3 linked regions of the Homo sapiens genome follow. The protein of the gene in region 2 purifies or fractionates together with the protein of the main gene of each other region. This does not show direct contact. Each region holds a gene or a part of one and is shown on either strand. Other genes may lie near its edges.

Region 1 (3,651 bases), on a different chromosome or scaffold from region 2:
CTGAGGGAGAGAAGCTGCACTTGTTAATTTAGGTTTCTGATGGAGTTGTGCCCCAAATAAATGTTACGTGGAGGTTTCAGGTGGAAGTGGATGAAGTTTAGAAGCTGGAGTCCAGAGCAGAGCCCAGTGCCCTTGAACCACACTGCAGTTTTGGGGATTGAATTCTGGAGGAGGAGAATAAGATGTTTAGAAACAGTCTACCAGATTTTGAACTCATTGTGGATAAACAACAATGTTGTTATGTACAGGAAATTTTATGCTTTGGATCCTTCATTCCCAAGGATGAATTTGTTAACTCGGACTACAGAAGGGAAGAAAAGGCAGCTCTACATGGTTTCTAAGGAGTTGCGGAATGTGCTGCTGAATAACAGTGAGAAGATGAAGGTGCCAGCCGCACAGACGCTGAGTGCTGTGTGATGCGGGATGCGTGTGGCTTTTCACAGCGGCTTAGATTTCATTTGGAGCAGACCGTGACATCTGCCCTCCCCACCTGTAGCGCTGGCTGTGGGTCCCTGAGCCTGCCCTTTGATTTCAGAGCTGTTGACTGACACAGGGCTGAATGGTTCCTGCCAGAGTCCTGAATCTGGTGGCCTGTGTCTTTTCTGTGCCCCATTCCCGCAGGGGGGTGAGCCATGGTGTAGTTCTCACAGCTCGCCCTCCTGGGCAGAGAAGGTACTAAAGGTGTAGAGGCTGCGAGTACTGCTGCCCCGACCCTTGGGATTTGTCCTTTGAGGTACTTCCCTTAGAATTTGGCCATTTGGGGGCCCTTCTTTCATTTGCTTTACTGTCCTCCAAACGACGTAATCACAAGTTGTGAGTATCAGTTCGTTCTTAACCGGGGTTTCTCGGTGGGTTTCTGCTTCTCCTCTCCTTTCCCATTCCGTGACGGTTGCTCCATGTGGCCCGGCATCCTTACAGGAGATGGTCCTGTCTTCATCTCTCTGTGTTTCATCTTATTTTTTTACTTACAGGTTATTAACACGGGGATCAAAGTCTGGTGTAGAAATAACAGCGGTGAAGAGTTTGACTGTGCTTTCCGGCTGGCACAGGAGGTAATTTTGGAAGTGGATTTGAACAGCAGTAGCCACAGATGACTGAAGCAGTCGGGAGTAGATGGGCTTGCTGGTCAGCCAGATGGTCTGAGTGGCTCAGGGCTTGGCTGGCACCTACCAGCCACTTGACCCTCACAGGTTATAGAGCTCTCCCAGAGTGCTGGTTTCCCCTCCTAGGGGGGGGTGGGTTCCACACCTGTCCAAGGGGAGGGGCCATAGTGAGGGCTCGACCACCATAGCCGCTAAGAGCATAGCCCCTGAGAGCAGGCTGTTGTCGTTCATGAATGACATCATGGTATCTGTTCTCTCATTCTCTTTATTCACACAGGGAATATATACATTGTATCCATTTATTAACTCAAGAATTATTACTGTATCAATGGAAGATGTTAAGATACTGTTGACCCAGGAAAATCCCTTTTTTAGAAAACTCAGCAGTGAGACCTACAGTCAAGCAAAGGACCTGGGTGAGTAGTTGGAAATGCATAGAGACATAACTTGTATTCCCTTTATAAGGCCAGCAAAAATGCAGGTGGTGTGCGTTGGGGCATATTTATCAATCATAGTTTTCAGTTTATTTATGGCTACATCAATTTCCAGAGGGTTCTGTAGATCCCTGATTGACAGTTCAGAATGCTAAGGGTCAAAGGCATCTTGGGGTTGGTGTACTTCCCCAGGCTCTGGTGGTGCCCTGCTGCTGCCCAGCAGCCTGTGGTGTGTCTGTGTGGCGTGCAGGGCTGGCCTTTGCTCACCTTGCTGGGCCAGAGAGTCCGGGGAGAGGAGGGGTCAGCCTGTGAGCAGCCCTGGCAAGCCTCCCAGCCAGAGCTCTTGACCCACTTGCCTGTCAGCAGGTCGGGGGTGGGTGGAAGCAGGTCTCTGTGCATGAGCAAATTTGTTTTTTTCTTTTTTTGTTTTGAGACAGAGTCTCGCTCTGTCACCCAGGCTGGAGTACAGTGGCACGATCTCGGCTCACTGCAAGCTCCGCCTCCCAGGTTCAGCCATTCTCCTGCCCCAGCCTCCCAAGTAGCTGGGACTACAAGCACCCGCCACCACGCCCAGCTAATTTTTTGTATTTTTAGTAGAGACGGGGTTTCACCGTGTTAGCCAGGATGGTCTCAATCTCCTGACCTTGTGATCTGCCTGTCTCAGCCTCCCAAAGTGCTGGGATTACAGGCGTGGGCCACCGCGCCCAGCCAGTAAATTTGTTTTTTAAGGTACACAGCCTCACGAGACTGGCTAACATGCAGATTTTAATCACCTGTGTTAGAGCAAAATAAGAGTCTTGCCAGCAGTTCTGACTTTTCTGCTAGCCAGCTGGAGTAGATTATTGGTCATATTGCTGCTTTTATATTTCATCAACTTCCACTTCAGATCACTCCAGTGACGTTTTCCCCTAAGCATAAAAATCATTTCTCCAAGCTGTTCTAATTTTCTTTCTGTTGTCTTCATTCTTGTTTATTTTTTTAAATAACTTGCTGTTTAATATTTTTGGCTCAATTTGATCAAAAGTACGTGAATCACTTCTTGCAGTTACGTTTCTTACTTGCGTTTAAAACTTACTCGTGTGGTTCCTTTGGGATATAAAACATGCTCTGTGGAGTCTGTCTCCCACTGCCGTCTCCAGGCAAGAACCACAATTTAAAGTAGAGATTCTTGTAAAGGATAAAGGACCTGTTTATACTGGTTTTCTTTTAATCCTGCACTTAGATGATTGCAGTATTGTTTTAGACAATTTTTATGTATTTCATGCCATTCTGGGAGTTGGTGTTATAGTTTATTTAATTTTGAATTTTGAAGAATTAACCAGCAGTTAATCCCCAGCCTCCTTGCTTCTCAGAGTGGATTGTCAGGTGACATCCCTTGAAGTCCCTGAATGGCTTTTGCCTGGGTCCTCTTCCAGATCGTCCCTACTGCGTCATTTGGACTTGGTTCATGTATCCAGACGGCCTCTTTTCACCATCTAGATCCTTGAAGCCAAGAATGTAGATTATTTGTTGTTTTCTTTCTTCAGAATACTTAACACATCACTAGGTGCAGAAATGTGCTCAGCGCATGCATCCACTACCTGGAAAACCTGGCAAATGTGTGTCTGTTTCTTTTCCAGCAAAGGGAAGCATCGTGCTGAAGTATGAACCAGATTCTGCGTAAGTCAGTACACGCCCTGCCCTTAGACACACACGCCTTGTCATTAGCTACAGTGTTCTCGTTGGTGAGGAAAGTGACTTGGGAAGGTGGGAACCTTCTTCAGGCCTTTTGTGATTGTTCCTCAGAAGTAGCCTTGTGAAAACTTCAGAACCAAAATATTCCTGTAGGTCATCATGAAGATGCTGTTTCATAGAACACTCAGCTCAGGCTAAGTGAATTTTTACTTACAGAGAATAAAATGCATAGTACTTATTTTTTAAGCATTAGAAACCAATGAAAATTTCTGTCTTGTACAGAGTAAGTGTGAAGATTGGACAGTTGAGTGAGGTTCCGTTCTTTTGTCCTCATGGCTGGTTCAGCCATGTGTGTTGCTGACATGTTACTGCATCAGGAGTGCTAGGGCCGGAGCATGGGATTTGCTCACGCTTGCACTCACGGTCCCCACGGGACCACT
Region 2 (3,651 bases):
AAGATCAAAAGCTGGAAGTGGCTGGGCCCTTCCCTGGGAGGCCTGGGCTGGTTTCCAGCATGGCAAGTGCAGCGCTGCCAGGCCAGCCCCGAGACAGGCCCAGACACACAGCACAGACTGCAGGGAACAGAGGCCGCTGGCATAACAGGCCACCCAGGAGCCTGAGGAGTATAGGGAGGGACCCTCAGTGCCTCAGTCCTTACCCTCAGGGCCCCTTGGGGCTCAGGAGCGATAAGTGGGATTCCAAAGGTTCTGAGGTTGGAGGCCCCTGGATTTGAGGGGCTTGAGGCCAGAGGACAGCCAGGGGCCAAGAGGGCTACCTCCCCAGCTTTTCAACTTCTCTGGACTCAGTTCCTGGGGCTGTGGGGGTCTTAGGCACTCCAAAGATCTGTTCCCCAGCCCAGAAGTCCCTTCCTCCTCTGGGGTGGGCCCCAGCTCCATTGGCAGGAGTGAATTCAGCACATCCGGGTCCTGTAATGGAAGAGTCAGGGAGCAGGGGGGCATAGAGTTTTCTGGCCCTCCCTCCTGACCCACAAGACCAGGATGTTAGATTAGGTCGGGGGCACACCTGAGTGCAGTACTGCAGACGCTCCAAGATGCTGGCAAAGCTAGGGCGGAGCTCAGGCTCGTGCTGCCAACACTGGGTCATGATGCGGTACCTGGGGAGAGGCAGGAGTTCATGCCCACCCATGGTTGTGAAGGACCTCCCTTCCCGGGCAGCACTCAACTCACACAGGCCCTGGGCAGCCCCTAGGAGGGTCCATCCGGCCTCCTCCAACGACGAAGTCCAGCACCTCCTGGTTGGTGCGCCCAGGATAGGGCATGTAGCCCAGTGAGAAGATCTCCCAGAGCAGCACCCCAAAAGACCTGCATCACAAGTGGGGGAACCAAGTGAGGCCCGTCAGGTGTAGCCTCCCCTCACATGAGGTGGCTGGAAAGGACAGGATTAGCCTCAGGGGAGGGGAACAGTGGGGAAGGGGAGGGGAAGGGTGTTATCACCAGGAATCTGTCTTGGATGTGAAGATGCCCTCCAGGAAGGCCTCTGGGGGCATCCACTTGACTGGGAGCAAGGCCCGGTCCCCCCTGCGGTAATAACTGGCCCTACAGGAGGGAGGAGGTGAATGATGAGTTGTTCACCACCAAGGTGCGGGGAAAACCCCCTTGGAGCAAGAGCCTTCCCACCTCCCAAGTCCCGCACCGGTAGATATCTCGTGCCATCCCAAAGTCCCCAATCTTGGCCACTCGGCTGGGTCCAGCGCAGCTCAGCAGGCAGTTCCGGGCGGCAATATCCCTACAGAGTAGGCAAAAAAAATCACTGCCAGAATCTAGAAGTTCTTGCTCTTCCTGATCTATTTCCTTAAAAGCTGTGTGGAAGGGCTGTTCCTTGGGGAGGGAGTTGGGATGGGGGTCCCCTGAGCCAGGACTGCTCCTAACCTGTGGATGAAGTGATTTTCCTCCAGGTAGTGGCAGCCCTGGGCTATGTCCTGGGCCAGTTGCAGCAGGTCCCGCATGACCAGAGGTGATGGCTGGCCCTGGGTCAGGCAGAGGGGGCATCAGTCCATGTAGGTCTCAGACACATGGACAGGGTCTTTAGAGGGGCCTGGGGGGGCTAAGACAAGGGTCTCACCAGGTGTGGCCGACTGTGCCTCAGGAAACTCTTCATGTCCCCTCCAGACATCAGTTCCAGCAGAATGAGGCGAGGGGTGGCCCTGAGGCTGAGCCCCACACACCGCACAATGTTCTGATGGCGAAACTTGCTGAGTGGGGTGGGGGACATATCCCGTTACCAGGAGGGAGACGGAAACCATGTTTTAGGCTCCACAAAGCTGGAGAGGCCCTCTGTGTCCCCTGACTTGCTACCTCAGCCTCAGGGTGAAGAGAAACTGTTCCCGGGCATTCCCCTCCCGCCTTCCAGCCCTGCCCCTGGTCCCAGGTGCACCTGATGATGAGGGCCTCCATGAGGAAATCCAGCTCATCCTGAGGCGAGCAGAGTTCTGGCAGGGTCTGGGGAGGAAAAGGGCACAGTTTCTGAGCTGCCCTGCACGCTTCAGGAGAGGGGGTTAACCCTAGCTCTAGTCATTGTCCTTCCCTTCAGGGTGTTCCGCTCTCCTACCCCCAGCCAGAAGTCCCACTCCTCTCACCTTGATAGCTACCTGCAGGGGACTGGAGTCCCCAGGAAGGCCAATTACCAGTCCCTCATACACCTCCCCAAAGGCACCATGGCCCAGGGCTCTGCAGGAAGACACGTTGGAAGGGAGTGGGCAGGCGGCCTGGAGAAGAGTCCTAGAGAGTCTAGTACCCCCTTTACCTCCCCTGCCCCTGCCATATGCCCAGCTGACCCTATATAGACTCTCTCCATACCATGGCATGTCCCCAGGTAGAAGCCCTGCAAGGGTGGTGCTCACTGGCATAGAGCCAGGGCAAAAAAGAGGGCAGATGCGGGCCAGAGTCAAGGTGGGAGTGCATGATGAGGACTTCCCTGGTCCCTGCAGACGCCCTGGGCGGGAGGCAATCCCTGGGCTCCAAGAGTCATGATTTTTTTTCTTTTTTAAACGAAGTCTCACTCTGTCATGCAGGCTGGAGTGCAATAGCGCGATCTCGGCTCACTGCAACCTCTGCCTCTCGGGTTCAAGTGATTCTCCTGCCTCAGTCTCCCGAGTAGCTGGGACTACAGGCAAGCGCCACAACGCCCAGCTATTTTTTGTGTTTTTAGTAGACACAGGGTTTCACCATGTTGGCCAGGCTGGTCTCGAACCCCTGACCTCAGGTGATCCACCTGCCTTGGCCTCCCAAAGTGCTGAGATTACAGGCGCCAGATCATATTTTTTTTTTATTGAGACAGAGTCTCACTCTGTCGCCCTGGCTGGAGTGCAATGGCGCAATCTCGGCTCACCACAACCTCCGCCTCCCAGGTTCAAGTGATTCTTCTGCCTCAGCCTCCCACGTAGCTGGGATTACAGGCATGCGCCACCATGCCCAGCTAATTTTGTATTTTTAGTAGAGATGGGGTTTCTCCATGTTGGTCAGGCTGGTCTCGAACTCCCGACCTCAGGTGACCTGCCTGCCTCGACCTCCCAAAGTTCTGGGATTACAGGTGTGAGCCACCACGCCCAGCTGAGAGATCATATTCTAAGAACTGGGACGGAGAGGTGACATTGAGCAAGTTACTTCCCCTTCTGGAGCTTCTCAGGGCCTCCCTCTCCCTTACACAAGGGATGTGGGCCAGATTTTTTCTGGGACTTATAATTCACTACAGCAGGGAGAGAATCAGAGGTGGGGATTCAGAGTGCATAGGTTCTCAGAAGGAGGCAGAAGACTTACCTGAGCAGAGTAACATTGGCTGGGGAAACCTCGGTGACACCTGGTGGCAGAGGCCAGGACTGGGCCGGGCCAAGCCCCACCTGGCAATAATAGGGATTGGGGGCTGTCCTGATGGCAGAGGTTCGAAGCTTGCTCAGCTCAAGCTCAGGGCTCGGCAGCCTCATCTCCTGCAGGCCCTGCCACTTCTTCTGCTTCACTGGGGGTGGGAAGAATAACGGCACACCCTCCACCTGCCCATCAACTCTCCCTCCCCCACCTGCCCAGGACACCCCTCCAGATGCTCATTAAGGTAAACGTTTTCCCCAGGCCTCCCCAGCTCCTTCCTATCTT
Region 3 (3,317 bases), on a different chromosome or scaffold from region 2:
AGAGAGGGTGTATGCTCCAGCTTCTACCTTGGTAGATCAGCCTTATGCTAATGAAGGTACAGTTGTGGTCACTGAAAGAGTAATACAGCCTCATGGGGGTGGATCGAATCCTCTGGAAGGCACTCAGCATCTTCAAGATGTACCTTACGTCATGGTGAGGGAAAGAGAGAGCTTCCTTGCCCCCAGCTCAGGTGTGCAGCCTACTCTGGCCATGCCTAATATAGCAGTAGGACAGAATGTGACAGTGACAGAAAGAGTTCTAGCACCTGCTTCCACTCTGCAATCCAGTTACCAGATTCCCACTGAAAATTCTATGACGGCTAGGAACACCACGGTGTCTGGAGCTGGAGTCCCTGGCCCTCTGCCAGATTTTGGTTTAGAGGAATCTGGTCATTCTAATTCTACCATAACCACATCTTCCACCAGAGTTACCAAGCATAGCACTGTACAGCATTCTTACTCCTAAACAGCAGTCAGCCACAAACTGACCCAGAGTTTAATTAGCAGTGACTAATTTCATGTTTCCAATGTACCTGATTTTTCATGAGCCTTACAGACACACAGAGACACATACACATTGATCTTAAAATTTTTCTCAGTCACTGATATGCAAAGGACCACACTGTCTCTGCTTCCAGGAGTATTTTAGAAATGTTCCACAATTTACTGAAGACATAGAGATGATGCTGCTGCTTAGGTGCCTTTTAGCAAGCTATGCAAACAATCCTGATAAAACAAGATACATAGAGAGTCAATCTGGCTTCTGAGAATTTACCAAGTGAACAGAGTACCTAGTTCATCAGCCGTCCAGTAAAGCAACCCAGGAAACTGACTGGGTCTCTTTGCCTACCGTATTAACATTAAACATTGATGTTCTGTATTCTGTACTTTACTGCACCCAGCAGACTTTCAACAACTCATTGATCCAAAGATACATGCACAGTCTGAGCACCAGCTATGGTGCTCATAACTTCTTTAAGACTTGAACCCTTTCAATCTGTGTGATTCATTAAATTGGACCATTGATGATAAGAATACACATTGTATGTTTCTGTGCACATGACAGTGTGTGTGTGTGCACGTACATACTGTATAGTCTTAAAAATAGCATTATACTGGCCAGGGGTGGTGGCTAACGCCTGTAATCCCAGCACTTTGGGAGGCCGAGGCGGGTGGATCAACTGTGGTCAGGAGTTTGAGATCAGCCAGGCCAACCTGGTGAAACCCCGTCTCTACTAAAAATACAAAAATTAGCTGGGCGTGATGGTGGGCGCCTGTAATCCCAGCTACTTGGGAGGCTGAGGCAGGAGAATCACTTGAACCCGGGAGGCGGAGGTTGCAGTGAGCCGAGATCGCACCATTGCACTCCAGTCTGGGCAACAGAGTGAGATTCCGTCTCAAAAAAAAAAAGAAAAGGAAAAAAAAATAGCATTATACCTCTTCCTTGTCTCAACCGCCATGAAAATTCTGAACACTCCAAATTCAGTTGAATAATCCAAAACAAAATTTATAAGTATAAAATAATTTTACTTCTTATAGTAATAGTATACTTTAAAAAGCCTCAGGGTATATTATCTTCTAAACAGCTACAATTCAGTGCAGCTACATTAACCAACTATGTTCTCTAGTTGAGAACAACTAGGCCTATTTCACTGCTGTGTAGCCTCAGTGCCTAACATGGGTGCCAAATAAATATTCGTAGAATTACACTGAATTGTAAAAACCATTCGTTTTTGTTTACAATTGCCAAAAATCTCAAAAGGCCCTGTATTTATGTAATTCTTTGAAATTATTATTTTATTTTGATTTCTCAGTTATTGACTGGCTGGGTGTGACTTAGTACATAAGTACTCAATATTATAAAAACCTCAAATAATTGACTTGATTTTACACAACATCCTTCCCTTTTCTACAAGTTAATTTTTTTACAAATCATTTGGGTTATCTCCTAAATAGGTTATATTTTATTGCTTCTAGAAACAATGTTTCAAAATATATGTGCATTATCAGTAATAATTTGTATAAATATTTCCCACAACAATTTTCATAATTTTCAAAGACTAATTTCTTGACTGAAGATATTTTGCTAGGGAAGTGAAACTTTAAAATTTTGTAGATTTTAAAAAATATTGTTGAATGGTGTCATGCAAAGGATTTATATAGTGTGCTCCCACTAACTGTACAGATCAGGACACATATTTTTAGACATCTAAGTCTGTAGCTTAAATGGAGGTTACTCTTCCATCATCTAGAATTGTTTACTTAGTAATTGTTGTTTCTTTTATTATTATAGACTTACTATCAGTTTTATTTTGCCAAGTATGCAACAGGTATATCACTAGTATATGAAAATGTAAATATCACTTGTGTACTCAAACAAAAGTTGGTCTTAAGCTTCCACCTTGAGCAGCCTTGGAAACCTAACCTGCCTCTTTTAGCATAATCACATTTTCTAAATGATTTTCTTTGTTCCTGAAAAAGTGATTTGTATTAGTTTTACATTTGTTTTTTGGAAGATTATATTTGTATATGTATCATCATAAAATATTTAAATAAAAAGTATCTTTAGAGTGACCCTTTCCCCATAGATTTTTATTTCTCTATTATATTTTACAAGGAATATAACTCAGTTTGTTAGGGAGAGTGCCTTAAAGGCAGGTGTTTCTTGGACTTTGTTATTTAATTAGATCTGCTTGCAATAAAAAAAGTTGTCGGTTATCTAAAATTCAAATTTATCGGGGTACTTGGCATTTTCATTGTCCAACTCTGGCAACCTTGTTCCTAAGGAAGTGAAGGTTGCTCTCTGCCCAGAGTAACACTGGAGAAATCTGTTGGGTCTGGCAGAAGAAGGCTAGTATATCTAACCCAAAGAGATGAAATCATTCTACCAATGTTTGAGAGGCTGTTTTAATTGCTTGTTATAGTTTAGAAGGGAAAAGATCAGAGTTGCTGCTATAAGAGAAGAAAAACAAATTTTCTTCTAGGTCCCCAGCTGGGGCTCTGTAACAAAACACAGATTAACAAGAGAAAAACAAACATTAGTCTGTTAACATGTGTATCTCATGCATGCTTTGGAGTAACTGGAATGAGCAGCTCAAAGGGGTGGTTAGAACTTGGGTGTAAAATGTTAAAAGAAGAGCTTTAAACAAATTAAATCTAACAGTTTACTTAAGCAAAGAAAGGTTCACAAAATTGGGCTGCCCTGGAACTAGAAAAGGTTCGGAGAACTCTATTCTACAATAATGAGCAGGCCGTATTCATAGACAGAAAATGGAAGTGAGGTAGGGAAGCTGCTTGATTGGTTACAGCTGAGCCTT

What was found.
Region 1: the proteins of LTK (region 2) and NSUN2 purify together in Homo sapiens (affinity purification with mass spectrometry; one large-scale study listed by BioGRID and IntAct). This does not show direct contact.
Region 3: the proteins of LTK (region 2) and DSG2 purify together in Homo sapiens (affinity purification with mass spectrometry; one large-scale study listed by BioGRID and IntAct). This does not show direct contact.

Annotation. Positions count from the first base shown.
Region 1 is NC_000005.10:6,602,006-6,605,656, reverse strand, and holds part of NSUN2 (RNA cytosine C(5)-methyltransferase NSUN2), read left to right. Parts: intron 1-248; coding exon 249-384; intron 385-971; coding exon 972-1,052; intron 1,053-1,380; coding exon 1,381-1,519; intron 1,520-3,156; coding exon 3,157-3,196; intron 3,197-3,651. UniProt on the Homo sapiens protein: RNA cytosine C(5)-methyltransferase that methylates cytosine to 5-methylcytosine (m5C) in various RNAs, such as tRNAs, mRNAs and some long non-coding RNAs (lncRNAs).
Region 2 is NC_000015.10:41,503,774-41,507,424, forward strand, and holds part of LTK (leukocyte tyrosine kinase receptor isoform 1 precursor), read right to left. Parts: intron 3,518-3,651; coding exon 3,322-3,517; intron 2,233-3,321; coding exon 2,142-2,232; intron 2,005-2,141; coding exon 1,940-2,004; intron 1,758-1,939; coding exon 1,628-1,757; intron 1,533-1,627; coding exon 1,435-1,532; intron 1,292-1,434; coding exon 1,199-1,291; intron 1,102-1,198; coding exon 1,000-1,101; intron 868-999; coding exon 733-867; intron 660-732; coding exon 569-659; intron 472-568; coding exon 223-471; 3' UTR 1-222. UniProt on the Homo sapiens protein: Receptor with a tyrosine-protein kinase activity. Following activation by ALKAL1 or ALKAL2 ligands at the cell surface, transduces an extracellular signal into an intracellular response.
Region 3 is NC_000018.10:31,546,278-31,549,594, forward strand, and holds the end of DSG2 (desmoglein-2 preproprotein), read left to right. Parts: coding exon 1-466; 3' UTR 467-2,731; downstream 2,732-3,317.